Linked DNA regions of Homo sapiens. Each later gene encodes a partner of the first gene's protein in a complex. Each region holds a gene or a part of one and is shown in the gene's direction. Other genes may lie near its edges. The genes, in order: XAB2, PRPF19, ISY1-RAB43 and ISY1.

The links.
Region 2: XAB2 (region 1) and PRPF19 share a complex: the UniProt entries of both Homo sapiens proteins name them as parts of the XAB2 complex.
Region 3: XAB2 (region 1) and ISY1-RAB43 share a complex: the UniProt entries of both Homo sapiens proteins name them as parts of the XAB2 complex.
Region 4: XAB2 (region 1) and ISY1 share a complex: the UniProt entries of both Homo sapiens proteins name them as parts of the XAB2 complex.

What each region holds. Positions count from the first base shown.
Region 1 is NC_000019.10:7,619,197-7,627,006, reverse strand, and holds the end of XAB2 (pre-mRNA-splicing factor SYF1), read left to right. Parts: intron 1-736; coding exon 737-871; intron 872-962; coding exon 963-1,127; intron 1,128-2,561; coding exon 2,562-2,706; intron 2,707-3,124; coding exon 3,125-3,276; intron 3,277-3,717; coding exon 3,718-3,837; intron 3,838-4,113; coding exon 4,114-4,245; intron 4,246-4,345; coding exon 4,346-4,477; intron 4,478-4,562; coding exon 4,563-4,676; intron 4,677-5,709; coding exon 5,710-5,872; intron 5,873-5,970; coding exon 5,971-6,161; intron 6,162-6,337; coding exon 6,338-6,460; intron 6,461-6,560; coding exon 6,561-6,732; intron 6,733-6,931; coding exon 6,932-7,061; intron 7,062-7,150; coding exon 7,151-7,260; intron 7,261-7,359; coding exon 7,360-7,421; 3' UTR 7,422-7,482; downstream 7,483-7,810. UniProt on the Homo sapiens protein: Involved in pre-mRNA splicing as component of the spliceosome. Involved in transcription-coupled repair (TCR), transcription and pre-mRNA splicing.
Region 2 is NC_000011.10:60,903,141-60,911,498, reverse strand, and holds the start of PRPF19 (pre-mRNA-processing factor 19), read left to right. Parts: upstream 1-4,913; 5' UTR 4,914-5,116; coding exon 5,117-5,135; intron 5,136-7,637; coding exon 7,638-7,787; intron 7,788-7,963; coding exon 7,964-8,040; intron 8,041-8,358. UniProt on the Homo sapiens protein: Ubiquitin-protein ligase which is a core component of several complexes mainly involved pre-mRNA splicing and DNA repair. Required for pre-mRNA splicing as component of the spliceosome.
Region 3 is NC_000003.12:129,150,556-129,158,365, reverse strand, and holds part of ISY1-RAB43 (ISY1-RAB43 protein), read left to right. Parts: intron 1-1,445; coding exon 1,446-1,511; intron 1,512-1,690; coding exon 1,691-1,733; intron 1,734-7,810. Other genes in the region: pre-mRNA-splicing factor ISY1 homolog, read left to right, coding at 1,446-1,511, 1,691-1,733. UniProt on the Homo sapiens protein: Component of the spliceosome C complex required for the selective processing of microRNAs during embryonic stem cell differentiation. Required for the biogenesis of all miRNAs from the pri-miR-17-92 primary transcript except miR-92a.
Region 4 is NC_000003.12:129,129,456-129,137,265, reverse strand, and holds part of ISY1 (pre-mRNA-splicing factor ISY1 homolog), read left to right. Parts: intron 1-69; coding exon of another isoform or gene 70-135; intron 136-2,311; coding exon 2,312-2,434; intron 2,435-3,070; coding exon 3,071-3,192; intron 3,193-6,629; coding exon 6,630-6,716; intron 6,717-7,077; coding exon 7,078-7,185; 3' UTR 7,186-7,810. Other genes in the region: ISY1-RAB43 protein, read left to right, coding at 2,312-2,434, 3,071-3,192, 6,630-6,716, 7,078-7,178. UniProt on the Homo sapiens protein: Component of the spliceosome C complex required for the selective processing of microRNAs during embryonic stem cell differentiation. Required for the biogenesis of all miRNAs from the pri-miR-17-92 primary transcript except miR-92a.

The sequences.
Region 1 (7,810 bases):
TGCCTGCACGGAGCTTTTAGTCTAAGTAGGAAGACAGATGCATATGAGCTGATGGCATGAACTAGAGTAAAACCACAGCCATGAAGAGGGCCAGGAATAGGGGTGGGGAGAAGCAGGCAGGGTGGAGAGTGGAAGCACCAGCCGGGCGGGAGTGGGGCATGGTTTGCTCAAACTTAAAGTATCTGTTTTATGACGTTTGGATTCTAAGCTGGACCAGTCAGGACTGAGGCTGGACCCGTGGGGCCCAGGCTGGACACTATAGTCAAGGCTGGACCCATGGGATCAAGGCTGACCCAAAGGGGCCAAGGCTAGACCAGTCAGGACTGAGGCTGGACTAGTGGAGCCAAGGCTGGACCCATTGTGGGTTGGGGGTCAATTCTAACCCAAAAGGACCAAGGCTGGACCATTGGGGCTGAGACTGGACCACCGCAGTCAAGGCTGTGCCCTTGCGGGTCAAGGCTAACCCAAAAAGTCCACAGCTGGTCTAGTCAGGACTGAGGCTGGACCAGTGGAGCCAAGGCAGGACCCACAGGGGGTTGAGCCTAACCCAGTGGGGCCAAGGCTAGACCAGTAGGAACCGGGCTGGACCAGTGGGGCTGAGGCTGGTTTGACAGGGCTTGCTTTTGCCCAAGACACTCATAAATGGGTGGGGGGGGACGCCCCGAAGCCACTGAATCGGGAGGTGGGCGTAGCCCTGCCACCCCACTGACTGCCTGAGGGGTGGCTCGGTCCCCAGCTGAGTCCTGAGAGTGCAGAGGAGTACATTGAGTACCTCAAGTCAAGTGACCGGCTGGATGAGGCCGCCCAGCGCCTGGCCACCGTGGTGAACGACGAGCGTTTCGTGTCTAAGGCCGGCAAGTCCAACTACCAGGTGGGCCTGCCGGGAGCCGGCAACTGGGTGGGAGGGCCACCCCCTCCATGACTGAGCCTGAGACTCTCCCCCACTGCCCCATGCCCTGCAGCTGTGGCACGAGCTGTGCGACCTCATCTCCCAGAATCCGGACAAGGTACAGTCCCTCAATGTGGACGCCATCATCCGCGGGGGCCTCACCCGCTTCACCGACCAGCTGGGCAAGCTCTGGTGTTCTCTCGCCGACTACTACATCCGCAGCGGCCATTTCGAGAAGGTGCATGCTGGCACACGGGGCTCTGGGTTCGGGGCGGGGTCTCCCTCCGACACTCGGGGACACATGTTGACACATGCACAGGCAGAAAACATGCCATTTATGGCTGGGTGTGGTGGCTCACACCTGTCATCCCAGCACTTTGGGAGGCCGAGGCGGTAGGATCACTTGAGGTCAGCAGTTCAAGACCAGCCTGGCCAACATGGTGAAACCCCATCACTACTAAAAATACAAAAATTAGTCAGACATGGTGGTGCGCGCCTGTAATCCCAGCTACTCGGGAGGCTGAGGCAGGAGAATCGCTTGAACTTGGGAGGTGGAGGTTGCCGTGAGCTGCGATCGCGCCACGGAAGTCCAGCCTGGGTGGCAGAGCGAGACTCCATCTCAAAAAAAAAAAAAAAAAAAAAAAGTGCCATTTTTGACAGACATGCATATCCCTGCACACGATTACTATCCTGCTGAGGGTGGGGGAGCACTCCTGCCCGCAGGCACGTCAGCCTTGGAGTCAGCCACATTTGCGTTCAGGGTTCACCCTCTGGCTCTGCGGCCTTGGCCCCACTAAGGTGGGGTGTCTTCATTTGTAAAATCAGGGTGACAGTTACTGCCTGTCACCAATCAGCTCAGTGACGCAGGCACAGCACTGAGGAGGTACGTGGTGTGAGGGCCACTCCCTCAGGGGTTAGCTGACTGTGGCTCTTGGCAGGCAGTGGAGTGGCAAGCTCAGGGGATGGCCTGGGGGCAGGTGGGTGCAGAGGGGGCCAGAGCCGAGAGCGGGGAGGCTCAGGAACCCAGGGAAGATAGGTTGGGAGCCTCGAAAGCCAAACGGGCTGGCCATGCTCCTGGCTGGGGGAGCCGCCAGTGGGGTGTGGGCGGTATGCGCTTCGCAGCGCCCCTTCCAGGGGCACGTGTAGGCCAAGGCTGTCGGAGGCAGCAGGGCAAGACCCGTCAGGGCTGGGTAGAGAGAGGGGACCTGAGCTGGGGTGGGCGAGCCAGGTGGAGGACAGGCGGGCTGGGGAAGAGGGTCAGGCAAGCGAGAGGGACGCTTTGGAGCAAATTCTGAGGCCTCGGAGGATGAGCTGAGGCGAGGGTCCCTGCAGGGTGGACCCATAGGCGCTGGGGGGTTTTTGGCCACCTATTGGGTGCCAAGTGCTTCACACATGTGTCTCAGTCGAGCCCTGAGGTCACTGTGTGCAAAGGGCAGTCACCCAGTTTACTGAGGAGGTCCTGAAGCTCCCAAGACCACCCTGGCAGTGCAGGGCAGGGCGGGGGTGAGAAGGCTCCACGGAGGCTCTGTCCTGGGGTCACTACCCAGAGGTGCTGGATGCGTCACTACCCAGAAGGCCCCCAGGGGTTCCACATTGAGGCTGGTGCTAAGAGTGCTGCTGCCTGTCCCCTGCGCCACTTTCCTCTCACCTCCCCTTCCCTGGGTCCCCACAGGCTCGGGACGTGTACGAGGAGGCCATCCGGACAGTGATGACCGTGCGGGACTTCACACAGGTGTTTGACAGCTACGCCCAGTTCGAGGAGAGCATGATCGCTGCAAAGATGGAGACCGCCTCGGAGCTGGGGCGCGAGGAGGAGGGTGAGCCTCTGGGGGCCCCGGCTGGTGGGGAGAGAGCTGAGTGGACATTAGCGGTAGGGGCGGGACACATCTCAGGTGAGGCAGCCCTGGGAGGCTCAGCTGGGGGCCAGCAGGGAAGGAGGCTGAGTGGATGCAGGGGGTGTGGGGGTCTTGAAGGAGCCAGGAATGGGGACACTTCTCAGGCCTGGGCCAGAGCCTGGCAGGGCAGGAGGGCTAGGGGAACAGTGGGGGTAGGAGGGGGTATCCACAGTACCTGGGGCTGGGGGTGGGGCTCAGGTGGACACCCGAGCTGAGTGTCTAGGGCCCAGAGCACTTGGCTGGGGGCTGGAGCGGAGTGAGGGTGGGGAGTGGAGGCGGTGGCATCCGGGGACCTGCATCCTGGGTCTCCGCCCCTGACAAACATGTTCGCGGCTCCCAGATGATGTGGACCTGGAGCTGCGCCTGGCCCGCTTCGAGCAGCTCATCAGCCGGCGGCCCCTGCTCCTCAACAGCGTCTTGCTGCGCCAAAACCCACACCACGTGCACGAGTGGCACAAGCGTGTCGCCCTGCACCAGGGCCGCCCCCGGGAGGTACATGAAGCCTGCCCCAGTCCTACCCCTGAGGGCCAGTTTCCTGCAGAACTGGGGAGCCACCCACCTTCACCCATAATGTCACCTTCTAGGGGCCTGACTTTGCTTAGTAGGTCCAATTCCACCCCTGTTCTTGGGGTTCTCCTCCTGCCCGAGCCCCGCCCCTCAGAGCCACAGTCCCTCCTGGCCCCACCCCTTGGAGGGCCACAGCTCCCTCGTGGCCCCGCCCCTTGGAGGGTCACAGCTCTCTCCTGGCCCCGCCCCTTAGGGCCACAGCTCTCTCTTGGTCCTGACCATTGTCAAGGGCCATAGTTCGTTTCTGGCCTCTCCCGACAGGGGCCACAGCACCCTCCAGGCCCCACCCCTCAGAGCCACAGCTCTGCCCCGACCGTCATCTGCAGGGTCCTGAGTCCTATATGACCTCCTCCCTCCTGTCCCCAGATCATCAACACCTACACAGAGGCTGTGCAGACGGTGGACCCCTTCAAGGCCACAGGCAAGCCCCACACTCTGTGGGTGGCGTTTGCCAAGTTTTATGAGGACAACGGACAGCTGGACGATGTGAGCACCCTGTTGCGTGTGCCTGTGTGTTCATGCATGTGTGTGTGCTTGTATATGTGTGCATGTATGTGTGTGTACATATTTGTGCATGGATGTGTGCACGTGTGTGTGCATGTGCATTTGGGTGCATGCATATGTGCACGCATGTGTGTGCCTGTGTGTGTGCCTGTGTGTTTGTGCCTGTATGTTTGTGAGCATGGTCACCTTTCTGACCCTTGATGGTGGGAGCTGTCCAGGTGGGCAGGGTCTCAGCCTCGCCTCTGCCCGCCCCGGCAGGCCCGTGTCATCCTGGAGAAGGCCACCAAGGTGAACTTCAAGCAGGTGGATGACCTGGCAAGCGTGTGGTGTCAGTGCGGAGAGCTGGAGCTCCGACACGAGAACTACGATGAGGCCTTGCGGCTGCTGCGAGTGAGAACAGGCCCAGGCTGTGGGGTGGGGGCTGCAGGTTGTAGGGCAAGGGCCAGGGACAGCCCCTGAGCGCCTCCCCGGCCACTGTCTGCCCCTGCAGAAGGCCACGGCGCTGCCTGCCCGCCGGGCCGAGTACTTTGATGGTTCAGAGCCCGTGCAGAACCGCGTGTACAAGTCACTGAAGGTCTGGTCCATGCTCGCCGACCTGGAGGAGAGCCTCGGCACCTTCCAGGTGAGCTGCCTGTGGCTGGGGAGGGACGGGGCCCCGGACTCAGCTCCAGAACCAGCTCCAACCTTTCCCATCCCCACCCCTGCAGTCCACCAAGGCCGTGTACGACCGCATCCTGGACCTGCGTATCGCAACACCCCAGATCGTCATCAACTATGCCATGTTCCTGGAGGAGCACAAGTACTTCGAGGAGAGCTTCAAGGTGAGGGGCTAGGGTGGACCCAGAGGCCCCTGATGGCAGTGTCCCCTCCCCAGGGGTCCTCAGCAACTTACGAATCTGCTGGGGCTTGTGTGACACAGTATACAGACTGGGTGACTTAAACAACAAAGATTTAGCTTCTCCCCGTCCTGGAGGCTGGAAGTCCAGGATCGAGGCATGGGCAGGGCTGGTTCCTCCTGAGGCCTCTCTCCTTAGCTTACAGACAGCCGCCTTCTCCCTATGTCTTTGTGTGGCCTTCTCTTTGTGTGTGTCACTTTTGAAATTTCCTCTTCTTATAAAGGACATCAGTCATAATGGATTAGGTGGCCCCTAACGACCTCAGTTTAACTTAGTGATCTCATCTTCAAACGAATCTACTTTCTGAGGTACTGGGGGTTAAGATTTGAGCATATGAATGTTTTGAGGGGGGCACAGTTCATTCCATAGCAGGCACAGAATCCTACTTCCACGTGCACCCATGACTCATGGGGAGGGTGTTGGTGCCAGTGTGTGCGGGCTCTCCCTGCCCCGCTGCTCAGGAGACGGGTTGTGGGGTCCAGGGGGTGGGTTGCGTGTCCGTGGGAAGGCCATGTCCCGCGGCCGGAGCAGTCATGTTTGAGTGTGTGTTTCTATGGATCGTGTGGGCATTATACAGATACACAAATGGGGAGGTCGTACATGCATACGCGTGCTACTGCCTGCCCCTCTGTCAGGGGGTGCGGCCTTCTCCCTGGGGACAGGCAGCCAGCGTCAGCGGAGCTGGGGAGCCACCCACCTTCACCCATCATGTCACCTCCTATGGGGCCAGACTGTGCTTAGCAGGTCCCATTGCACCCCTGTTCTTGGGGTTCTCACAGAGGGAGACAGTGCAGAGGACAGACCCCCACAACTGCCATTAGGGACAGGGAGGCGTGGACAGGGAAGGGCCCCAAGGGAGTTCCTGGCAGGCTCCCTACAGACGCCACCCAAGGACATCCCGGGTGCCTGGTGGTCTCTATCTGCAGACTCTCACATGTGACTCTCCCTCTGGTAACAGGCGTACGAGCGCGGCATCTCGCTGTTCAAGTGGCCCAACGTGTCCGACATCTGGAGCACCTACCTGACCAAATTCATTGCCCGCTATGGGGGCCGCAAGCTGGAGCGGGCACGGGACCTGTTTGAACAGGCTCTGGACGGCTGCCCCCCAAAATATGCCAAGAGTGAGGCGGGCAGAGGGCATGGGGGGGGTGGCGGGCGGGCTGGGTTTCTGACTGGCCCCGGCTGACCGTGCTCCCCTCTCCCCGCCTACCCCGCCCAGCCTTGTACCTGCTGTACGCACAGCTGGAGGAGGAGTGGGGCCTGGCCCGGCATGCCATGGCCGTGTACGAGCGTGCCACCAGGGCCGTGGAGCCCGCCCAGCAGTATGACATGTTCAACATCTACATCAAGCGGGCGGCCGAGATCTATGGGGTCACCCACACCCGCGGCATCTACCAGAAGGCCATTGAGGTACCCACCGTGGGGGGCTGGGCCGGGGCCAGAGGTCCCTGAGCAGACGGAAGGGGTCCAGGCAGGTGGGAGGGGCTGAGGAGGAGCCTTCTGGAAGCACAGGGATGGCCATGGTGTGTTGGGAGCCCCCGAGCTACCCCGGCCTCACTCCCGGCCTCCCCAACCCCGGTGTCCAGGTGCTGTCGGACGAGCACGCGCGTGAGATGTGCCTGCGGTTTGCAGACATGGAGTGCAAGCTCGGGGAGATTGACCGCGCCCGGGCCATCTACAGCTTCTGCTCCCAGATCTGTGACCCCCGGGTAGGGCTGTGGGGAGGGACGGGTATCAGGGTTGGGGGCTGCGGCGGAGTCAGCCAGCTCACGGGCACACACACCCACCCCTGCCCTGCCCCCCACGCAGACGACCGGCGCGTTCTGGCAGACGTGGAAGGACTTTGAGGTCCGGCATGGCAATGAGGACACCATCAAGGAAATGCTGCGTATCCGGCGCAGCGTGCAGGCCACGTACAACACGCAGGTCAACTTCATGGCCTCGCAGATGCTCAAGGTCTCGGGCAGTGCCACGGGCACCGGTGAGCCGTCCCAGCTGGCTGAGTTCCTGATCCAGGGCATCTCAGCCCGGCCTGACCTGGGCTTTCCGGGTCTGGGAGCCTCGGATCCTGATGGCAATCTCCTTGAGGGCTGGGCCATCACCTGGGGGACTGGGATAGTGCAACGTCCGATGTGTGGGAGGGGCCCCCGTGGCGCTGACCCCCTGCTCCCACCCCCTAGTGTCTGACCTGGCCCCTGGGCAGAGTGGCATGGACGACATGAAGCTGCTGGAACAGCGGGCAGAGCAGCTGGCGGCTGAGGCGGAGCGTGACCAGCCCTTGCGCGCCCAGAGCAAGATCCTGTTCGTGAGGTGAGGGCGGATCCTTGGACGGGACAGGACTGGGACAGGTCCCAAGGGGGCCCGGGGTGGGGAACTGAGGCAGCATGGCCCGTCCCTAGGAGTGACGCCTCCCGGGAGGAGCTGGCAGAGCTGGCACAGCAGGTCAACCCCGAGGAGATCCAGCTGGGCGAGGACGAGGACGAGGACGAGATGGACCTGGAGCCCAACGGTGAGGGCCCGGCTGGGGCGGGGACGGTGGCATTACCAGGGTGGGCCTCGGGGGACAGGCCAACGCCAGGAGGGTGACTGGCTCCCGCCTTCCCCACAGAGGTTCGGCTGGAGCAGCAGAGCGTGCCAGCCGCAGTGTTTGGGAGCCTGAAGGAAGACTGACCCGTCCCTCCCCCATCCCCCCTCCCCACCCCCTCCCCAATACAGCTACGTTTGTACATCATGGTCTGAGCCTCCTTCCTGCTGCCCAGGTGCCCGAGGGAGTACAGCTCAGGAGTGCCTGGCCCTGGGCCGGGATTGGCTGCTGTGGGAGGTGGGGCGGCTGGGCCCCAGGCCAGATACTGCCCGGCCTCACCCCGCAGAGCCAGTTCTGGACTCGAGAGGCCAGTCCCTCCGCTGCCTGGGGCCTTGGAGTGGGTCCTGCCCGGAAACTTCCTTGAGCCTCTGTAGCCTGGGAAGGGCAATCCAGCCCCTGGCTGCCCAGGTCTCGCCAGCCCCTGCCTCTCAGAGCCCTTCTGTGGCCCCAGGCAGCTGCCGCCTCCCTGGGGTGG
Region 2 (8,358 bases), on another chromosome or scaffold:
CAACTTCTCCCTGACTAATCTTCTGTCACTTATCCACACAGATTGCTACTGAAGATACCTGGGAAATTAAGCTTCTTTTGGGTCTTTGGCCAATGTGTCCCCATGCTCCCCAGGCAGCAACAGCAGCTTTGGTCTGGGAGGAACAAGGCATAGAGTTCCTTCCTCAGGGACCCACCAGCACCAATGCATATATCTCTTTTCCCTTAACTCTCCCTGTTTCTCTGAAACCAAGTGCCCTGAATTTTTTCTATTCCCTGTGGGCTGGCTTATGAAACGGAAAAGCCTTGACAGGACTTCCTTTTTCCTGCATCCTGCTATCATAGCCATAAACTCCCCAGTAGAGGGACACCTCTGGTTTTGCTCATTGTGATACTACCAACACCTAGTATCGTGCCGGGCTGACACGCTATGGGTACTCAATAAAGATTGGTTCAACAATTAATTACTGAGTCTCCCTCCTTCTAGTCTGTCCCACTCCAACCCATCCAGTAAGTGTCTTCCAGAGGAAACTTCTGAAAGTATGGTTATCACTCCATAGCTCAAATGCAAACACATGCTGTTGTGCTGCCAGCCCAATCACCACCCAAGTTTTACCACCTTGGGTTCAAGGCCTCTCCTAAACGGATCCATTTTATTTCCAACCACACATCCAAGTACAGTAGTTGAGATGACTGGCCTGTCAGGCAACCTGTCTTCCAACCAACAATCATCATAAAGTTCCTGCTATGTGCCAGGCACAATGTGGCACTCTTACACTCTTGAGAGCAAGAGTAACCAGAACAATTATGGTTCCTGCCATCATGAAGTTTACAGTCTAGTGAAGAACCCAGACATCAGATACTTATAAATAGATAATTAAATGATTACAGTTCTTTGAAGTGGTTTGGAGGACAATCACAGTTTGCTGTATGGACTAAATTTAAACCAGGGACCATGAAAAGGGCTCCAGAGGAAGTGACATTTAAGGTGAGACTGAAGTTTACATTGGAGGGTTTGAGACAGGAGGGGGAAGAGGGAGGGGGGAGAGGACAGTGATCCAGGCAGAAGTTCTGAAACCAGCCAGCGCGGGTATGTTTGAGGAACTGAAAGGCCAATGTGGCTGGAAAGAAGATAAAGTGAGACTGTGATGGTCAGCATGGGCCAGATGGTGCAAGACTTACGGGCAAGTTTCCTCAGCCAGAAACTCTCTCCCTCATTCATGGCCTCAGGAATGACCCCTGGTTGGGGCTCAGAGAATGATACCCCAAAGTATGGTGCTTTAGTATTGTTTCTGAGCAAATAGGCTCACTGCCTGATGCACATAGAAGCCAATACTATGGTACCAGCTTTTGAGAACAGAAAGGCTTTATTGCAGGGCCACCCAGCAAGGAGACTGGAGGCATGGCTCACATCTGTCTCCTAATTTGGGGTCTGGGGCAAGATTTAAGGGGTCAGAGGGTGATATGGTTTGGCTGTGTCCCCACCCAAATCTCATCTTGAATTCTCACATGTTGTGGGAGGGACCCAGTGGGAGATAATTGAATCATAGGGGCAGGTCTTTCTTGTGCTGTTCTTGTGATAGTGAATAAGTCTCATGAGGTCTGATGGTTTTGAGAAACAGGAGTTTCCCTGTACAAGCTCTTTGTTTTTGCCTGCTGCCATCCATGTAAGATGTGACTTGCTCCTCCTTGCCTTCTGCCATGATTGTGAGGTTTCCCCAGCCACGTGGAACTGTAAGTCCAATTAAACCTCTTTTGTAAATTGTCCAGTCTCAGGTATGTCTTTGTCAGCAGCGTGAAAACAGACTAATACAGATGGCAAGGAAACGTATTAGGAATTTTGGCTTGGCAGGGTCTGATTGGAGGGTGTCAAATTTGACTACACGGGTATGTTGAGGTGGATTTTACCCCTGGATCTTTCTGGTCAACAGACCCTTTGCTCCTGAAAGAGTTCCAGCATTTAGGTTCCGATCATGTCTAGGTCTTCTTGGTACCACAGGGAGGAATCATTGGTTCTGGGTGTTGTTAGATGTCAAAGCATTTTCTATTGGGCATGCCCTACTGACATGACTTGGAGTTTTGGCTCTGTCATACCTACAAGAGAACATGACATTCTGTTATCAAAAGAGTAGGCCCAGTTTGGATTGGTCCTGAGGTTACAGCATGCTGAGCACTTTTGAATGAAAAGAAATGGGAAGGTCTTAGAAGCTGCCTTAGAACCAAGGACTTTCTAACCTTCTCTTGCCCCCTGACCCCCACCCTAAGTACAGGGAGAAGCTCTCTCTAGAAGTTCCCTTATCTGACTGAGAAAATTTCTTTCAGAAGAAATGCAATTGTCTCAAATCTCCCTCCACAGGAAACTCATCAAATAACCAGGAAAGATTAACCACTGGAGAAGAATAAAAACTAAAAGTCACCAACTCACCACTACACCTAGAGAGACTTTTAATCTATTCTTCTGATGGGAGCTCTAACAGATTACCTGAGAGACCTTATGTGCATAATAAGACAACCTTTGTTCACAATGGAGTTCTGCCCCTCACCTTCCCACAATTTGTTGCCACCTCCTCCAGAGCTCATAAGAACTTTGTCCCAAGGCATTGTTTGTTCTTGGGGCTCATTCATTTCCCCTAAAAATTATTTGCTAGCCCTCCCTAAAAATTATTTGCTAGCCCTCAAAATTGCCTACATTTCCCCCATCTCCGTCTTTCCTGGGTGCCATTTAAGTAAGCATCAGCCACCTGTTCCTTCTTTGAGCCTCATATTTTGTATTACTCCTGTGCACACTCACACACTAATACACTTGTATGCCTTTTCTCCTGTTATTCTGTCGATTGTCAGTTAATTTCAGCAAATCTTTAGAGGGCAGAGGGGAAACTTTTTTGCTCCATACCCTCATTCAGTTCTCAGCAAAAAAATCAGCTCCTCAGTGATGCACTCTCTAAGTGCCCTGCCTCAAGTAGCCGTTCCTCCAATCCCCAGCACCTCTGTCTACCTTGCTCTGATTTGTTGTATTCATAGCACTTACTACTCTGGAATTTTCTTCTTAAGTGTTGATTGTCTCTGTGCTCCCACCACCCACAGTAGAGTGTAAGCTCCAAGACAGCAGAAACTGTGTCTTTCTTGTTGACCTTTTCTATCTCCAGTTTTTACAATAGGGCTTGGCACATAGGAAGCACCCAATCAATATTTGTTGGATGAATGAAATGCCTGGGGAATAACATGAATAGATATTTCGTTCAAAGTGGATCACTGTCTGCTCTGTGGAAAGTAGATTAGGAGGAGGAGGCCAGGCTGGAAGCAAGGAACAAGTGGGAAGTTACTTTGTTGGTGCAAGACAGAGATGAGATGCCCTTTTGCATATTAACTCTTCATAAGAGTTCAGTGAGTTAGTTCTACCCTTGTCATCACTCCCTCTGTTTTACAGATGAGGAAACTAAGGCATAGAGAAGTTCATACTGCCAATCACCTGAGTGGTGCTAGGATTTGAGCACACAGTCTGACTTCAGAGTCCATGCTCTTGGCCACTATGCCATATTGCCTTTTGTACCTGTAACTTTTATTTTTCTCTCCAAGCTTTTGCTTACGTTGTTTCTTCTTCCGGAATGCCTTTCGTTCTCCTTCTCCTCTGAATACTGCCCACCTGTCAAAGTCCCTCTCACTCACATCCTGTTCATCCTGCCCTTTTGTCTTGATACCTTACAGTCCACACCACGTCTTTTGCATGATTCCTGAGAGTATCTTATCTTACAGATATCCACAAAGAATCATACACTATCTGAGCTGGAAGAGAAATAGAAAATACAAAATCCAAAATACAAAATAAAGAAATTTATAGGAGGCCATTGGTTTGGACTGAGCTCTTCTGCTAGGCCTAACAGACCAAGCTAAAAAGAGTTAGTCCTGCTGAAGCTCCACGCCAATAAGCTGAAACGAAGATCTTTACGACCTTCTGAGTGTGTATGTGTGTGTGTGTGTGTGTGTGTGTGTGTGTGTGTGTAGGGGGGAGCTAAATTCCCAAACAGGCAAGTTTTAGGTGGCATGATAAGTCCCCTCCACTTTAACCTTTACAAGAAAAGTAATTTTGAAATTACCAAATGACCAATCCGCTTTTTGTTCTCTGTTCCTGTTTTCCTCAGTCCTTTTCTGTCTATAAAACCAAGTTCTCCTGTTCAGCTCATTGGAACAACCATTATATTTTATAGTATGAGGCACTGCCCAATTCTATAGAATCGCACCTTAAGTCCCAGCTACTCCGGAGGCTGAGGCAGAAGGATCACTTGAGGCCAGGAGTTCCAGGATGCACCTGTGATAGCCATGATTGCTATGACCGCACCTGTGAATAGCCACTGCCTTCCAGCCTGGGCAACATTGCCAGAGTCCGTCTCTTAAGAAAAAAAAAATCTTTGAACTAAGTTTGTTGTGATTTTGTCTTTTGACAAAGAAGAAAGGGCAATGTGAATTGCCCCAAATCACAGAGCGAAATGGTAGTAGTCAGGACCAAAACACTTTCTTAGCCGTTTTCTTAGTTCTTGTACCCATCTGTTTCTGTATTTTCTTCACCAGGCCATCCAGCAGTGTCTCTTAAAGGGTAGCCCGAGAAACAACTGACTTAGAAAAGCGTGGGGCACAGTCTGTCTACGCAGACCCGAGGAATCTGCATTTTAACAAACTCACTGGGAAATTCTCGCGCACGCCAAGGTTTCAAAGACCAGGGTCCCGTGGCACAGTGCCGCACAGTTGTCAAAACAAGTGCTGTCCAATTGTTTTGGTTTTAAATTCTCACTGCGTCATGGGAAATGTAGTTTCGAGCCTCCTCTCTCCCGACGCCCCAGCCAATCCTCCGGCGCTTTACGGAACGAGCCGAGTCAATCCGGAAATAACCGAGTGTTCGTGGCGGGCCCTTTCCTGCCCGGCTGCATTCTGGGAAAGGGCAATTTCCGTTAGGTGCTGAAGGCTGTGGCGCGCGGCTGTCCCCATTCCCACGTGAAGCGCTACGCTAGCATCGCTCGGCTGGCGGCTCCCAGCTCGCCGCGGAGCAGTCCCGGCAGCAGCGGGGGACCGGAAGTGGCTCGCGGAGGCTCAGAAGCTAGTCCCGGAGCCCGGCGTGTGGCGCCTCGGAGCACGGTGACGGCGCCATGTCCCTAATCTGCTCCAGTGAGTGTTGGCTGCGGCCAAGCGCGGGTCTCAGGAGGCCAGAGAGCGGCGCGGGAGCGTGTGCGGTCCGCTGCGGCGCCCGGGCCGGGGTGGAGGCGGGAATGGGGCGCTCCGGAGGCCGAGCGGCGGCCTGTCAGCACCGGAGCCCCCCCCGTCGGAGCGGGGTGCATTTGCGCAGTGCCCCGCAGTTTACATAGTGCCTGAGGTTTATTGTCGCAGACATTACTGAGGCCGGTCGCCTCATTCTACAGAGTGGAAACAGGTCTGGACAGAGAGAGCTGGTGCAAGGGAAGCAGCCTTAATGTAGGAGTCAGAAAACTCGAGGTCTTGTCCAGGGTCCGCCTCCCATTGGCTTTATGAATTGGCTCAAGGCTCTGGGCCTCGGTTTCCCCATCTGCAAAATCGAGAGCATTGCAGTGGATGTTTTGCGAGGCCTCGCTCGGATAGTCGGAGCTTTTGCAATTTGCAAAGGTCACATGATGAGTTAGAGGTAGAGGCAAGGCTGGCAGCCAGGTATCTGGCTCCCAGCCTTACACTGTATGACTAATAAAAACAGCGCACATTTATAAGCCCTTATTGGTTTACAACGCGCTTCCAAGTCTATGATCTCATTTTATCCTCACAAGAATTCCCTAAAGGAGAAATAAAGATCCTGGTTTTGCAGATGAGGATGCAAGGCGCAGGAAGAGCGGGGCTTATCTAAGGATGCGTAGCTAGTCAGTGGCAGAGCTGGGTGACGTAGTTAGGTGACACGGATCTTGGACCCTGAATCCATGCTTTTTTCATACCTTCCACTATCTTTCCCTTTGATATTTTATCATGACGTACAGACATTTTCCTTTCCCTTTTCGTTGTTTCATCAGATTACTCGTTTCCCCTCCCTTTTGCTATTCACTTCCTTCTCTTCTCAGAACCTGTACATTGATCCAAAGAGGGGGAAGAAGGAAGGGAAATGATGGAAAAGGAATCCCTCACTTTGAAGAAATTACAGCTCGCAAAGTACCTTCACATTTATTGTTTCCTTCCAATCTTCGGGAAGCTCTCTTTTACGTTCCCCAGCACCATCCTTCCTGGCATGGTTCACTCATTTGTTAGATGTTTACCGAGTGCCCTGGGGGCATCTGCATTGTACTGGAAGTGAGAGACCAGCTGTAATCCTTATCCTCAAGGGGTGCACAGTCTACGCAGGCAAGAGTGTAAATGATACCTCTATTGCGGGTTGTTGTGAAGATGAATTACTGTACTGTATGCCTAGAATTGTGCTTGGCACATAGAAATGTGCCATGCAAATGTGCCATGTAAATATTTTTAAATATTTTTATTGTAGCGATTGCCACTTTGCTCCTTGGAATCTTCCAGGTGATAAGTGTCTGTACGCTAATCAGTTGACTGGTAGCTGGTAGACTCAATAGCTTCAGGATGGGGACTGGTCACCTAGGAAGACTAAAGGGTATTAGAAGGTTGGGATTTTCAGTCCTACCCCCCATTTACCTGGGGAAATGAGAGGAACTGAAGTCGTCACTAGTGACCAGTGATTTATTGAATCATGCCTTTGTAATGAAGTTTTCATAAAAATACAAAAGGACAGGATTCAAAGAGCTTCTGTATAGCAGAACATGTGGGGGTTCCTGGAGGGTGGGGTGCCCAGGGAAGGCATGGGAAGCTCTGTACTTCTCCCATACCTCATCCTATGCTCCTCTTCATCTGTATCCTTTGTAATATCCTTTACAATAAACTGGTAAACATAAGTGTTTCCCACAATTGTTTGAGTCACTGTTGCAAATTAATTGAACCCAAAAAGGAGGTCATGGGAACCCTGATTTACAGCTGGTAGATCAGAAGAACAGGTCAAACAACCTGGGGCTTGCGATTGGCATCTGAAGGGGCGGGGAGTCTGGTGGGACTGAGACCTCAACCTGTATGATCTGACACTATCTCCAGGTACCTGGTGTCAGAATTGAATTGGAGGACACCCAGATGGTCACATCTGAGGTCACAGAAGTATTTTGTTTTGTCAGAGAATAGGAGAAACTGAGTTTGTTATTCCTGTATTCTCAGACTTTATAATTTCTTTGATAATCTGTCTGGAGCTATAGACTAAGATGGATGGCAGGGATTTGAATGGCTTCATGTGTATCTCCATGTCATGGAGTAAACTGTATTCATAGAGTACACAATCATTGTTCAGATATGAGGTGGTGATAATGGACTGCTATTCTCTAGGTGCTTGGCACATAGTAGTTGTTAATAATTATTTGTTGACTATATGATTGTCAGATAGTCAGGAGACTATCTCCTCAGTCAGGAGACTAAAGGAAAAGGTAGTTCCATAGCTGGAAAGCATTCTGGGGCCAGTACAGAACTGGCTTAGGGTCAAATGTCTTGCTTTCTGCTAGTTGAGTGTGAGGATGCCTAGTCTTGTTGGGGCTAATAGCAGATGAGGAATCCTCTAGGCCCAAGATTGCCTTCACTCCAAGCTCACTACCAGCCTTTTCTCTACAGTCTCTAACGAAGTGCCGGAGCACCCATGTGTATCCCCTGTCTCTAATCATGTTTATGAGCGGCGGCTCATCGAGAAGTACATTGCGGAGAATGGTACCGACCCCATCAACAACCAGCCTCTCTCCGAGGAGCAGCTCATCGACATCAAAGGTGCCTATTGGCTGCCTTAGTCTAGGGCCATCTTAGCTCAGAGCCTGAGAGGATGGGAGGTGGTGCCAGTGCACTGGAGGAAGAGATGGTGGGCTGTTTATGGCTAAAAGGAAAAGATGTGATGGCGGGGGAGGCCCCTGGGTTATGTTCTTCATACCTGCTTTCCCTTTCGGCAGTTGCTCACCCAATCCGGCCCAAGCCTCCCTCAGCCACCAGCATCCCGGCCATTCTGAAAGCTTTGCAGGATGAGTGGGTGAGTTCCTGCAAGAGAATCAGCATCTTCCCCACTTGAAGAGAATGCATTGCTGGGTTAGGACTTGGGGGTAGGAAGGATGGAGCATTATTTAGAGGGTAAACTTTGTGACATCAGGGATTTGTTTTATTCTTCGTTGTATCCCCAGCACTGAGAGCAGCACCTGGTACATAGTAGGTGCTCTAGAGTTATGAATTGAATGATTGAATACATCCTGCAGGACTGTCTGGCACAGTGCCTGACACAACGAGGGCGATCAATAAATAGCAGCAGCAGCAGTGTTGTTATTCTCTTTTAGAGAGGGGACGGCATGACAGC
Region 3 (7,810 bases), on another chromosome or scaffold:
GCAACATGGCAAAATCCCTTCTTTACAAAAAATACAAAGATTAGCCTAGCCAGGCATGGTGGCGCCTGCCTGTAGTCCCAGCTACTGGGGAGGCTGAGGCAGGAGAATCACTTGAATGCAGGAGTCTTACACTGCAGGGAGCCATGATCATGCCACTGCACTCCAGCCTGGGTGACACAGTGAGAACCTGTCAAAAAAAAAAAAAAAAGTAGGGTGCAGTGACTCACGCCTGTAATCCCAGCACTTTGAGAGGCTGAGGGGGGTGGATCACTTGAGGACAGGAGTTTGAGGCCAGCCTGGCTAACATGGTGAAACCCCATCTCTACTAAAAATACAAAAATTAGCTGGGCATGGTGGCAGGCACCTGTAATCCCAGCTACTTGAGGCTGAGGCAGAAGAATCACTTGAGCCCTGGAGACGGAGGTTGCAGTGCACCGAGAGCGCGCTGCTGCACTCCAGGTCAACAGACTTCAAACTTCAGAATTTCCTATTTCTTATCTGTACCTGCTGACGCTCTTGAGAGTCTGTACACTTGAATTCCAATACCTCCCCATAGCTGAGGCAGGGTGATGGATCTGGCTGCTTGTTTTTCAGTTTCTTCTGTATTATGATGACTGGGCCCGGCCCTTTTTTTTTTTTTTTTTTTTTTGAGATGGACGCTCTGTCGCTCAGGCTGGAGTGCAGTGGCGTGATCTTGGCTCACTGTAACCTCCAACTCCCTGGTTCAAGCAATTCCCCTGCCTCAGCCTCCTGAGTAGCTGGAATTACAGGCACATATCACCACACCCAGCTAATTTTTTTGTATTTTTAGTAGAGATGGGGTTTCACCATGTTGGCCAGACTGGTCTCAAACTCCAGGCCTCAGGCAATCTGCCTGCCTTGACCTCCCAAAGTGGGAATTACAGAGATGAACCGCCGTGCCCAGCCTGATGACTGGGTCCTTTATTACTCCAGCTCTAATATTGAATAGGGACTGGAGTATGATGTGGAGAACAGCTGTAAGCTGAAACCGGTAAATTATTTCATTTCTTAGAGACTCACCCAAATTAGAGATAATATATACCATTCTTTGGATTTTTTTTTTAATTTTATATACGCACATGTATATGAATACACCCATATTTATGTATGTTTGTTTTAAACACTGATAGACATTGTTTCTTAAGGTACTATAAATATGCCATGAAATAGCTATAACCTAGTTTGGCTGTCTCTCTATTGCAGGACAGTTAAGTTCTTTCCAATATTAAATACAATGCAATCAATGTTTTTCCTAAGGAGAGATTGTAGAATGAGGTTTAAGGCTTGATGAGGATCATCTGGAATGAAAACTTCAAATGTTTTTAGGCCATTAGATGATTTAGGCTTAAGGCCTGAATCAGTTCTGAATGTTGTTTGAAACTTGTAAATAGTATAATGGAAATGTGTTATTTTTTTCTCCTTAGGAACGAAGACCCTTTCTGGCCTCAGAATGTACTGAACTGCCTAAAGCTGAGAAGTGGAGACGACAGGTATGTTCTGGGTAAATCTGATTTCAGTAGAAGTAACAAGTCTCTCATTTCTTCTTATTATCTAAATGACTGTTAGACCAAAAGTCTAAGTATTTTTAAATACTAATTTTGAATTATAGTTTTTCTGTGCTTTCTAACATATTCAAAAATTATTAAAATGTATTACTTTTTTTTAATAGATCATTGGAGAGATCTCTAAAAAAGTGGCTCAGATTCAGAATGGTAAGCAAACTTGTTCCTTTAAAGTGCTTGATTCTCAAATCCACAATTAGACTTGAGGACTTCAATACTCCTTTCAAAATAATCAATAGAGCAAGTAGATAGTAAATCAGTAAGGACATAGAAGAGCCAATCAATACGATCAGTCAGTTTGATGTAGTTGAAAGTTGTAGAATACTCTGTCTCACAACACTGTACCTAACAATAAAGAATACGTCATTTTTTTTTTTTTTTTTTGAGACAGAGTCTCACTCTGTCACCCAGGCTGGAGTGCAGTGGTGCGATCTCGGCTCACTGCAAGCTCAGCCTCCTGGGTTCACGCCATTCTCCTGCCTCAGCCTCCCGAATAGCTGGGACTACAGGTGCCCACAACCACGCCCGGCTAATTTTTTTGTACTTTCAGTAGAGACAGGGTTTCACCATGTTAGCCAGGATGGTCTTGATCTCCTGACCTTGCAATTCGCCCGCCTCAGCCTCCCAAAGTGCTGGGATTATAGGTATGAGCCACTATGCCCGGCCTAATACATGGTCTTTTTTAAGAGCACGTGGAACATTCACCAAAATAAAACATATTCTGGGCTGCAGAACAAATGTTAGCAAATTTAAAATATTTGAGGCCGGGCGCAGTAGCTCACGCCTGTAATCCCAGCACTTTGGGAGGCCGAGGAGGGAGGATCACCTAAGGTCTGGGGTTTGAGACCAGCCTGACCAACATGGAGAAACCCCACCTCTACTGAAAATACAAAATTGGCTGGACGTGGTAGCGCATGCTTGTAATCCCAGCTACTTGGGAGGCTGAGGCAGGAGAATCGCTTGAACCTAACGGGCGGAGGTTACAGTGAGCCAAGATCACACTATTGCATTCCAGCTTCAGCAACAAGAGTGAAACTCCATCTCAAAAAAAAAAAAAATTGAAATTACACAGAGTATTTTCTCTGATTATAACAACAGATTCATATCTGAAAAATTCCTAAATATTTGGAAATTAAACAACATATTTGTAAATAATTCATGTGTCTGAGAGGAAACAGCAAAGAAATTAGAAGATATTTTGAATTTAATTAGAGTGAAAACGTAATGTCAAAATTTAGGGGATGAAAAAATTTATGGGATATAGTGCTTAGATAAAAATGTATAGCACTGGCCTGGTGCGGTGGCTCACACCTGTAATCCCAGCACTTTGGGAGGCCGAGGCGGGTGGATCACGAGGTTAGGAGATAAGAGACTATCCTGGCCAACATGGTGAAACCCTGTCTCTACTAAAAATACAAATATTAGCTGGGTGTGGTGTCATGTGCCTGTAATCCCAGCTACTCAGGAGGCTGAAGCAGGAGAATCGCTTGAACCCGGGAGGCGGAGGTTGTAGTGAGCCAAGATCGTGCCACTGCACTCCAGGACTCCATCTCAAAACAAACAAACAAACAAACAAACAAAAAATACATATATAGCACTGAAATAATAGAAAATTATGAAAGTTTTCAAATCAGTGATCTAAGCTTCTACCCTGTGAAATTAGAAAAGAAGAGCAAATTAAACCCAAAGCAAGCAGAAGGAAGGAAATAGTAAAGATAAGAAATCAATAGCATTGAAAACAAGATGAATAGAGAAAACAGACCAACAGCTGGTTCTTTGAAAAGATCAATAAAATTGCTGGGCGTGGTGGCTCACGCCTGTAATCCCAGCACTTTGGGAGGCCGAGGCGGGCGGATGACGAGGTCAGGAGATCGAGACCATCCTGGCTAACACGGTGAAACCCCGTCTTTACTAAAAATACAAAAAATTAGCTGGATGTGGTGGCAGGCGCCTGTAATCCCAGCTACTTGGGAGGCTGAGGCAGGAGAATGGCATGAACCCAAGAGGTGGAGCTTGCAGTGAGCTGAGATCGCGCCACTGCACTCCAGCCTGGGAGACAGAGCGAGACTCTGTCTCAAAAAAAAAAAAAAGATCAATAAAATTGATAAACTTCTAGTCAGACTGACCAAGAAAAAATATACACAAATTAAGAATATTAGGAACCAAATTGGGAATATTACTATAGAATCTATATACATTAAAAGGATAATAAGGAAATATTACAGACAATGTTATGCCCATAAATTTGACAACTTAGATGAAATAGGTCAATTCCTTACAAGACACAAACTGCCAAAGCTCACTTAAGAGAAGTGGTCCTTTTTTTTTTTTTTTTTTTTTTTTGAGATGGAGTCTTGCTCTGTCACCCAGGCTAGAGTGCAGTGGCGAGTTCTCGGCTCACTGCACTGGGTTCAAGCAATTTCTCCCTGGGTTCACCTCCCTGGGTTCAAGCAATTTCTCCTGCCTCAGCCTCCCGAGTAGCTGGGATTACAGGCACCCTCCATCATACCTGGCTAATTTTTTTTTTTTTTTTTTTTTTTGAGACAGAGTCTCGCTCTGTCACCCAGGCTGGAGTGCAGTGGCGCCATCTCAGCTCACTGCAGGCTCCGCCCCCCGGGGTTCACGCCATTCTCCTGCCTCAGCCTCCCGCGTAGCTGGGACTACAGGCGCCCACCCCCTCGCCTGGCTGATCTTTTGTATTTTTAGTAGAGATGGGGTTTCACCGTGTTAGCCAGGATGGTCTCGATCTCCTGACCTCGTGATCCGCCCGCCTCGGCCTCCCAAAGTGCTGGGATTACAGGCGTGAGCCATGGCGCCCAGCCAAATTTTTGTAATTTTTTAGTAGAGACAGGGTTTCACCATGTTGAACAGGCTGGTCTTCAATTCCTGACCTCAGGGGATCCACCCTCCTCGGCCTTCCAAAGTGCTAGGATTACAGGTGTAAGCCACAGTGCCTGGCCGAGAAATAGTTCATTTTGTTTTGTTTTGTTTTGTTTTGAGACAGAGTCTTGCTCTGTTGCCCACACTGGAGTGCAGTGGCATGATCTTGGCTCACCGCAGCCTCTGCCTCCCGGGTTCAAGCGAATCTCCTGCCTCAGCCTCCTGAGTAGCTGGGCCTACAGGCGCCCACCACCATGCCCAGCTAATTTTTTTTTGTATTTTTAGTAGAGACGGGGTTTCACCATGTTAGCCAGGATGGTCTCGATCTCCTGACCTCATGACCTGCCCACCTCACCCTCCCGTAGTGCTGGGATTACAGGCTTGAGCCACTGCGCCCAGCCCTGAAGAAATTTTTGATTGTTACAACTGGAAGGGTGCTACTGGCACATAGTGGGTAGAGGCCAGGGATGTGCTAAGCCTCCTACAAATAATTATCCTAAATAAACTACAGTGTCAATAATTCTACTGTTTAGAGACACAGTTCAAAAAGAAATGGTAAACCTGAGTAGTCCTATATCTGTTAAAGAAATTGGGGCTGTGCACCGTGGCTCACGCCTGTAACTGCAGCACTTTGGGAAGTGGAGGTGGGTGGATCACCTGAGGTTAGGAGTTCAAGACCAGGCTGGCCAACATGGTGAAACCCTGTCTCTATGAAAAATACAAAAATTAGCCAGGCATGGTGACGCATGCGTGTAATCCTAGCTACTTGGGAGGCTGAGGCAGGAGAATCACTTTAACCCAGGAGGCAGAGGTTGCAGTGAGCCAAGATTGGGCCACTGCACTCCAGCCTGGGTGACAGAGCGACAGTCCATCTCAAAAAAAAAAAAAAAAAAGATGGAAAGAAATTGAATTCATTTCTAAATACCTTTCTAAAAGAAAATTCCAGACCCAGATGGCTTCACTGGTCAGTTCTACTAAATATTTAAGGAAGAAATAATACCAACTCCACATAGTTTCCTCAAGAAAATGGAAGAAGAGGGAACACTTTGTAACTCATTTTGTGAATTTTAGTATCAGCATTACCCTGATGCTAAAATCAGAAAAAGATATTATGAGAAATAACTACTGACAATATTTCCTATGAATATAGACAAAAATCTTTAATGAAACATTAGCATATCAAACCTAGCAATGTATGGCCGGGCGCGGTGGCTCACGCCTGTAATTCCAGCACTTTGGGAGGCCAAGGTGGGTGGATCGTGAGATCAGGAGATCGAAACCATCCTGGCTAACACACGGTGAAACCCCGTCTCTACTAAAAATACAAAAAAATTAGCCGGGCGTGGTGGCAGGTGCCTGTAGTCCCAGCTTCCTGGGAGGCTGAGGCAGGCGAATCGCTGGAACCCGGGAGGCGGAGCTTGCAGTGAGCCGAGATTGCACCACTGCACTCCAGCCTGGGCGACAGAGCGAGACTCCGTCTCAAAAAAAAAAACAAAACCTAGCAATGTATAAAAAGGATAATACATCACAACTAAGGAGGATTTATTCTGGAAAAACATAGTAGATTCAGCATTCAAAAATAAGTTAATTCACTGTGTCATTCCAAAGAAGAAAAACTGTATGATCTAAGTAGATGCAGAAAAAGTATTTGACAAAATTAGACGTTTATTCATGATAAGAACTCAGCAAACTGGGAATAAAAGGGAACTTTTTACCCTGATAAAGCACTTCTTTTTTTTTTCTGAGACGGAGTTTTGCTCTTGTCACCCATGCTGGAGTGCAGTGGTGCAATTTCAGCTCAATGCAACCTCCGCCTCTCAGGTTCAAGTGATTCTCCTGCCTCAGCCTCCCGAGTAGCTGGGATTACAGGTGCCAGCCACCACGCCTAGCTAATTTTTGTATTTTCAGTAGAGACAGGGTTTTACCATGTTGGCAAGGCTGGTCTCGAATTCCCAACCTCAGGTGATCCACCCACCTTGGCCTCCCTAAGAGCTGGGATTACAGGCATGAGCCACCACACCCGGCCCTGATAAAGTACTTATAAGAAACCCATAGCCAATAAACTATTTAATGGTGAAGGATTGAATGCTTTCCTCTTAAGATCAGGAACGAGGCAAAGACATCCACTCTCACCACTATATTCAGCGTGATGCTGGAAATCCTAGCCAGTGCGGTAAAGTAAAAAAAGGAAATAAAAGGCATAAAGATTAGAAAATAATAAGTAAAACTGTCTTTATTGTAACATAGAAAATCCTATATAATTTTCTTTTTTTTGAGATGGAGTCTCGCTCTGTCACCCAGGCTGAAGTACAGTGGTGCAGTCTCGGCTCACTGCAACCTCTGTCCCCTGGGTTCAAGCGATTCTCCTGCCTCAGCCTCCTGAGTAGCTGGGACTACAGGCATGTGCCACCATGCCCGGCCAATTTTTGTATTTTTACTAGAGACAGAGTTTCGCCATGTTGGCCAGCCTGGTCTCGAACTCCCAACCTCAGGTGATCCACCCGCCTCTGCCTCCCAAAGTACTGGGATTACAGGCATGAGCCACCATGCCCACCTAAAATCCTACATAATTTTCTATGTAGAAAATCCCAAGGAACCTACAGAAAGACTTCTAAAATGGATAAGTGAATTTATCAAGATCACAGAAAAGAAGTTCAATATACAGAATTATATATATACACACACACCCCATATATATTCATATATATATTTTTATATATTTATATATATTTTTATATATTTATATATTTTATATATTTATATATATATATATTTTTTTTTGAGACAGAGTCTTCCTCTGTCACCCACGCTGGAGTGCAGTGGCCCAGTCTCGGCTCACTGCAACCTCTGCCTCCCAGGTTCAAGCTATTCTGCCTCAGCCTCTCGAGTAGCTGGGACTACAGGCATCCACCACCACACCTGGCTGATTTTTGTATTTTTAGTAGAGACAGAGTTTCACCATGTTGGCTAGGCTGGTCTGGAACTTCTGGGCTCAAGTGATATCTGCCTGCTTCAGCCTCCCAAAGTACTGGGATTACAGGTGTGAGCCACCATGCTCAGCTTCAAAATTATATTTTTATATACTAACATTGAACAGCTGGAAATACAACATTTTTTTAAAGTGCTATTTACAAAAGCACCAAAACACAAGAAATAACTTAGGTATAAATCTTTTTAATTTTAATTTTATTTATTTATTTTTTTGAGATGGAGTCTTGCTCTGGCGTCCAGGCTGGAGTGCAGCTCACTGCAAGCTCCGCCCCCCAGGTTCATGCCATTCTCCTGCCTCAGCCTCCCGAGTAGCTGGGACTACAGGCGCCCACCACCACGTCTGGCTAATTTTTTTT
Region 4 (7,810 bases), on another chromosome or scaffold:
TAACTGATAACCATTATTATCTGTTTGGTATGTTCCTTTCCGGCCTTAAAAATTTTTTTATTTTTTTAGGCCAGGTGCGGTGGCTCATGCCTGTAATCCCAGCACTTTGGGAGGCTGAGGCGGGCGGATCACAAGGTCAGGAGATCAAGACCATCCTGGCTAACATGGTGAAACCCCGTCTCTGCTAAAAAAAAATACAAAAAATTAGCTGGGCATGGTGGCGGGCACCTGTAATCCCAGCTACTTGGGAGGCTGAGGCAGGAGAATGGCGTGAACCCAGGAGGCGGAGCTTGCAGTGAACTGAGATCGCGCCATTGCACTCCAGCCTGGGCAACAGAGTGAGGCTCTGTCTAAAAAAATAAAATTAAAAAATAAAAAATAAAAAAAAAAAGAAGAAGAAAATACAAAATTAGCTGGGCATGGTGGCAGGTGCCTATAATCCCAGCTACTCGGGAGACTAAGGCAGGAGAATGGCGTGAACCCAGGAGGCGGAGCTTGCAGTGAGCTGAGATCACGCCATTGCACTCCAGCCTGGGTGACAGAGCGAGGCTCTGTCTTTAAAAAAAAAAAAAAAGAAGAAGAAGAAAATACAAAATTAGCCGGGCGTGGTGGTGCGTGCCTGTAATTCCAGCTACTCAGGAGGCTGAGGCAGGAGAATTGCTTGAACCCAGGAGGCGGAGGTTGTGGTGAGCTGAGATTGCGCCATTGCACTCCAGCCTGAGCAACAAGAGCGAGACTCCGTCCCACAAAAAAAAGAAAAAAACATGCTGGGATTACAGGCATGAGTCACTGCACCTGGCCAGCTTTTATTCTTTCACCAATCTGGTTGGTTGTCATTTTGTTTTTCATTTTTAATAATTACTTAGCCGGGTGCAGTGGCTCACACCTATAATCTTAGCACTTTGGGAAGCCTAAGCGGGTGGATCACCTGAGGTCAGGAGTTCGAGACTTGCCTGGCCAACATGGTGAAACCCCATCTCTACTAAAAATACAAAAATTAGCTGGGTGTGGTGGCGGGTGCTTGTAATCCCAGCTACTCGGGAGGCTGAGGCAGGAGAATCGCTTGAACCCGGGATGCAGAGGTTGCAGTGAGCCAAGATCATGCCATTGCACTCCAGCCTGGACAAGAGCGAAATTCCATCTCAAAAAAAAAAAAGAATTACTTAAATATTCTGGATTGTAGTCCTAGTCTGAAAATATCTTCTTTAGGGCTTTCTCATGTATCTTTTTTGTTTGTTTCTAGCTTCTTTTGTCTTTTTTATTTACTTATGTTTCCTGTCATGCTTTTTCATTAAACATTATGACAGTTCCTGTGTTATTAAAATACTTTGTGAAATAGCATTACAGGGGCTGCAGGATATCCCATCCCATACATATTCTGCAATTTACAATCATAGGTTATTCCCAAGTTTTCTCTATTATATAAATAATACTGTGATGCATATTTCTGTACATGAAGCTTTTTGCTATCTCGTGTTTGGTTTTTGTTTTTTTTTTTTTGAGATGGAGTCTCGCTCTGTCGCCCAGGCTGCAGTGCAGTGGTGCAGTCTTCGCTCACTGCAACCTCTGTCCCCTGGGTTCAAGCGATTCTCCTGCCTCAGCCTCAGGAGTAGCTGGGATTACAGGGGCCCCCACCACCATGCCTGGCTAATTTTTGTATTTTTAGTAGAGATGGGGTTTCACCATATTGGCCACGCTGGTCTTGAACTGCTGACCTCGTGATTCTCCCGCCTCGGCCTCCCAAAGTGCTGGGATTACAGGCATGAGTCACCGCACCCGGCCTGGTTTTGTTTTTTACTTAGGTAGATTGCTTTTAAACGGACAAATGGGTCCAAGTACTGATTTTAAAAAGGGCTCTACCACTTAAATAATTCCATGAATAGTATAGAAAAGTGTCTATCCATGGTATTTTCTTTTTCTGTGTGATGGAGTCTTGTTTTGTCGCCCAGGCTGGAGTGCAGTGGCGTGATCTCGGCTCACTGCAAACTCTGCCTCCTAGGTTCAAGCGATTCTCCTGCCACAGCCTGAGTAGCTGGGATTACAGGTGCGCACCACCACGCCCGGCTAATTTTTGTATTTTTAGTAGAGACGAGGTTTCACCATGTTGGTCAGGCTGGTCTCGAACTCCTGACCTTGTGAGCCACCTGTCTGGGCCTCCCAAAGCGCTAGGATTACAAGCATGAGCCACTGCGCCCACCTGGTATTTTCATGAACATACGTGCCACGTGTGTGTATAGCGTTGCATCAGGAGACAGCTTCGCTGGAGTGTGATTATGACTTGGAAACTCAGCTCCATTTCTGTTTCTTATAGCTCTTCCTCCTCCCAGAAAGACACGTGCTGAGCTCATGAAGGCAATCGATTTTGAGTACTATGGTTACCTAGATGAAGATGATGGTGTTATTGTGCCTTTGGAACAGGAATATGAAAAGAAACGTAGGTCTCTGGGCATTTTATTTCATAATAGATGGCATCTGTTTTCTGTTGTGTCCTTTGAAAACAGGATTTTCAATAGTGCTTTATGCCAGAAGGGAGTTTTCTTTGTTGCTAATGATCTTCAGGCGTGATGGTCTGCTAATTCCCTGACCCCTGTGAGGCAGTCAAAGCTGTGTGGGCCAGAGGTAACAGGTTGGGGAAGCCATGAGAGCCACGTCTGACCGGTCCCTGTCTGCTAGGAGGTCACCATGTGGATTCGTGCTAATACCAGTGCCCATGTGACACATCAGGCCAGGACTTTGGAAGCAAGTGGTCTGGAGCTGGAGCTGCTTTCTAGCATGCTCTGCCCCTGCCTTCTCTCTTTTCATGTGGACATGTTGGGAATCCACTCAGGTTGTGGAAGTGGGGAGGATTTGGGAATGTTCCCTAAAAAGCTGCTTTGTAGTGACTGAAGGCCAGAGCTGTTGTAGGACTACCATGCTTCACATCCATTTCCACCCACGGGGGCAGAATGAAGGGTGTCCCTTTCTAGAGGGGATGTCTAGACTTTCCCTGCATAGTGTTGGCCTTTCCCTGCATAGTGTTGAAAGCTCATTTAGAGACAAATAAATAGCACCTACCCTCTCTTGTGTTCAGTCAGAGCCGAGTTAGTGGAAAAGTGGAAAGCAGAGAGAGAGGCTCGGCTGGCAAGAGGAGAAAAGGAAGAGGAGGAGGAAGAGGAGGAAGAGATCAACATCTATGCAGTCACCGAGGAGGAGGTATTGGGGTTGGCCCCCTCTGGCACTCACTGCCATCTGTTCCAAGCCATGAAGTGTGGCAGGGAGGAAACTTGGCTCCCAAATACAGAGTCAGGGTTCACAGCCCAGCTTGCTCACCTGCAGGATGGCTGTGAAAACACTTGCGAGATTACAGGAGGGTTTCAGGAGGCAGCAGCCATGAGAGTGCCCTGCCGGCCGTGCTTTACACCAGGGCTTCCTTCTTTCCTTCTTAAAGACAGGCCCTTCTGCATACACTAGAATTAGACTGATAAACACAGAGGAAGCCATGAGCTTTAGCCCATGACCTCATCACTTCTGTTCACGTGTCAGTGGCAGTTGCTCTTCTGTAGTCTAACACCCCCATCTTTTTTATTTTTTTTGAAACGGAATCTGGCTCTGTTGCCCAGGCTGGAGTGCAGTGGCACAATCTTGGCTCACTGCAACCTCTGCCTTCCGGGTTCAAGCAATTCTTCTGCCTCAACCTCCCAAGTAGCTGGGACTACAGGCGAGTGCCACCACGCATGGCTAATTTTTGTATTTTTAGTAGAGACGGGGTTTCACCATATTGGCCAGGCTGGTCTCGAACTCCTGACCTTGTGATCCACCTGCCTTGGCCTCCCAAAGTGCTGGGATGACAGGTGTGAACCATTGCTCCCAGCCCTAACACCCCTGTCTTACACATGGAAAGAAACGCAGAGCAGAGAAGAAACTTTCTTAGAGGGTCATGGTTGGGGAATCTTTGCATATTTTCAGACCTTTTGCATATTTTCTGATCTTTTGCATATTTTCTGATTTATAGGAAATACTCATTATATATCTTAGTTATTACTTTTTATTATAGCCACCATGTAAGTAATCTTGACATATCTGTCTGTGCTACACCTTTTATTTTTTCTATGAAACATTACCAAAACTTCACTGCATTAAAGGAGGTATTCTGAAACAAGGAAAATTCAACATTTGAAATCTCTGCCTCCCAGGCAGAGCTCTTCTGCGGGGCCCTATATTTGGAGTCCTTGCTGCCTGCACAGGTCTAGGTGGATCTGATTTGCTGGACTGAGAGAAGGGAGGGGATCACCCACACATGGATGATGGCTCAGGTTCCACATGAGGAGCTTGCTGAGACATCACTGGTGAAGAAGCAGGCTCAGGTTTAGTGACTTAATGTCACATGGGATATAACAGGCCTGACGTTCCTGCTCATGTCCAGCTGGGCCAGCACTGGGGTTCAGTGCAGGTCTGAAGCAGGATGGCAGCATGCCTTAGGAGGATTTCCTCTAGGTACAAATATTCATTTGCTCTCTCAGCAGGTGTTTAATTCATGGCTCCTGTGAGCCAGCCGCATTCCAGGTGCAGGGGCATGGTGGTACAGAGGCTTGGAGTGTAGCTCATAGTCCAGGGGGAGGCAGTCCAGTAAGAGAGACAGTGAGCAACAGTCCCTCAATAGAGCCTGGTGCAGGGACAGCCTGCAGACACTCTGCTGGGAAGCTAAACCCTCAGCTGAGATTAGGATGATCCAGCGAACTTAACCAAGGAAGGAGGAGATGAGAGAGGGCTCCCAGCAGGGGCGCATCATGTGCTGAGAGATCCTGTGATGAGTGTGAGAGACAAAGGACAGCCCAGTGTGCTGGAGTGCAGAGAGTGGGTGCTGGGTGTGAGTGGAGGCTGATGGGGAGCTGGCGTTGTGGGGAAGAGCAGTGGAAACCCACAGCAGAATTTTTTTTTCTTTTCAAATAATTATAGAGATACAGGAAGTTGCAAAGAGTACAGAGAGATCTTGTGTATGCTTCACCCAGTTCCCCCCAGTGGTTGTATCTCATGTAGTTCTAGCACAGTAGTAAAACTGGGAGGTTGACATTGGCATATTGAGTGTGTGGAGTTCTGTGTCATTTGTCTCCATGTGTGGAGATCCATGTGGCCATCATGACAATCCAGATACAGAACTGGCCGGGGGTGGTGGTCACACCTGTAATCCTAATACTTTGGGAGGCTGAGGTGGGAGGATTGCTTGAACTCAGGAGTTCAAGACCAGTCTGGCAACACAATGAGGCCCTGTTTCTACCAAAAATAAAAACAATTAGCTAGGTGTGGTTGGACATGCCTATAGTCCCAGCTACTCAGGAGGCTGAGGTGTGAGAATTGCTTGAGCTCAGGGGGTTCAGATTACAGTGAGCTGTGATTGCACCACTGCACTCCAGCCTGGGAACTGTCCCCTTACTACAAAGATCCCTGGTGCCACCCCTTCACAGTTCACACCTCCCTGTCCTCACCATCTCTTCTCCTAGCTGAACCCTAACCTGTTCTCCATCTCTGATTTTGTCATTTCAGAATGTTTTATAAATGGGATCATGCTGTGAGTCACCTTTCACGATGGCCTTGACACTTAACATGATGCCCTTGCCATCCCTCTGGTTGTTGAGTTCAATAGTTCATTCCTTTTCACTGCTGAGTGTTGTTCCATATACAGAAAAGTACACACCTGCTAAATGTGTAGGTCACTGGATTTTCACAGGGTGAACACACACACACATAGCAAATACCAGTGAAGAAACAGAACAGGACCACAGCGCCAGAAGCTCACTACTGCCTCAGGGGTCACCCTCCTGACCTCTTGTGACCCATATATTTCACTTGTGTCTGAACTTTACATATGTGAGTCGTGTGTACTCTTTTGTGTCTAATGTTTGTGGGTATTTGTGTTGTGTCCAGATTGGGGTTTTGGCAGATAGGGTTGCTGGGAATTTTCTTGTTCCCGTGCAGTGTTTCTCTTGAGTACATGCTGAGGAGTGGAACCACCAGATCAGGGTAGGTATGTGTTTAGTGTTAGATACAACCAGTTTCTCCAAGTGCCAGCAGTGGATGAGAGGTTCCTCAAGAGGCTTTTGAAGCCATCCCCACTGGGAGCCAGTCAGGGAATGGGTCGTGCACGGTGTCTGGCAGAGCCCAGCAAACAGTGGACTCCTGACTCGCCACAAGACCCCTTCTCTCTTTCCAAGTCCGTGGTGTTTTCTTTGTTATTAGAAATTTGTATTGACTCATAGGCAACCTCTGAGCTGATTATTTTTCTATGCATGGTACATTCTTTTACATTTAAATTTTTTAAAATAGTGATACATTCACAAGGTTCAAAAGTGAAAAAGAATATAAAGATATTCCACAAAGATTCTCTTTCCTCACCCTGTCCCTCATCTACCTTGGTCTCACTGCCGTCAGTAATTTCTATTCTTATTTCCTCCTTAGACAAAAGGTAGCATAATATACAGCGTGTTCTATGGCTTTTTTTACTTAATCTTGTGGGTCAAGTGTCTTTCTATAAGTATAGAACTTTCTTAGTTTTTTTTTCTTTTAAATAGTTGCAGAGTAGTGTGTTTTATAGAGTTGCCAGCATTTATCTAGCTGGGCGCCTACTGATGGACTTTCGTTTGTTCTGTTTGTAGTCGGACGAGGAAGGCAGCCAGGAGAAAGGAGGGGACGACAGCCAGCAGAAGTTCATTGCTCACGTCCCTGTTCCCTCGCAGCAAGAGGTAGGACCACAGCTAAGAGCTGCCTGGGCGCCGGGGGCTTCTCTAAAGCAGACTTCACAGAGCACTGTAGTGGGTTTTCGTTGTCCTTCCTACCCATCAGGGCAGCTCAGGGTCCTGACCACATGACACCTGTCATTGTGTTCAGGGTGTGGGGTCCAAAAAGGGCAGGACCCTCTGCTCTAGGCCATTCTATCGTTCAAATGTTTCCAATGGGAGGGAGTTAGGACTCTTGGAGACTATTCTGCGTATTTAAATCAGACTCCTTGATGGACTTCTCCCACGGGGACTTCCTCCTGGCTGGGTCTGGCAGGGGTTGAGGGGCTTTGCTGAGGAGTGAGCCCTGCACTCTTAATTTCCACAGATTGAGGAGGCACTGGTGCGAAGGAAGAAAATGGAACTCCTCCAGAAGTATGCAAGCGAGACCCTGCAGGCCCAAAGTGAAGAAGCCAGAAGGCTCCTGGGGTATTAGGACCCAGCTGGGGCTCTCCTTGGAGTTCTTCCATCCCCCAGTGGTACCTCAGGACCCAGGGCTGCAGACACAGGCTGGTGCTGCAAGGGCTCCTGCCCCATTCTCAGCCTTCCTTCCCTCTCCTTGTCTCATGTTGACCGGAGGGTAGGGGTCTGTCCCTGGTCTTCCTGGTAGGTTTTGTACACATATTTTGCTACTGTGTGGATCCATTTATTTTTATTGTGGAGTGTATACAACAGGTTGCGAACTGGCTGCCTGTGTCTTATTTTGACTTGCACTGCCATTTTGAGGGGAGAAGAATCAATTAGTGGCAAACATTTAAAAATGCAATTTTTTGCAGACCAAAGTATAATTTTAAAAAATGCAAATTTTCTAAAAGACACATCTCTTGAAAAATGAGATGATGTGGCCAGGCGCAGTGGCTCACGCCTGTAACCCCAGCACTTTGGGAGGCCGAGGCGGGCGGGTCACGAGGTCAAGAGATGGAGACCATCCTGGCCAACATGGTGAAACCCCATGTCTACTAAAAATACAAAAAAATTAGCTGGGCGTACTGGCATGCACCTGTAGTCCCAGCTGCTTGGGAGGCTGAGGCAGGAGAATCACTTGAACCCGAGAGGTGGAG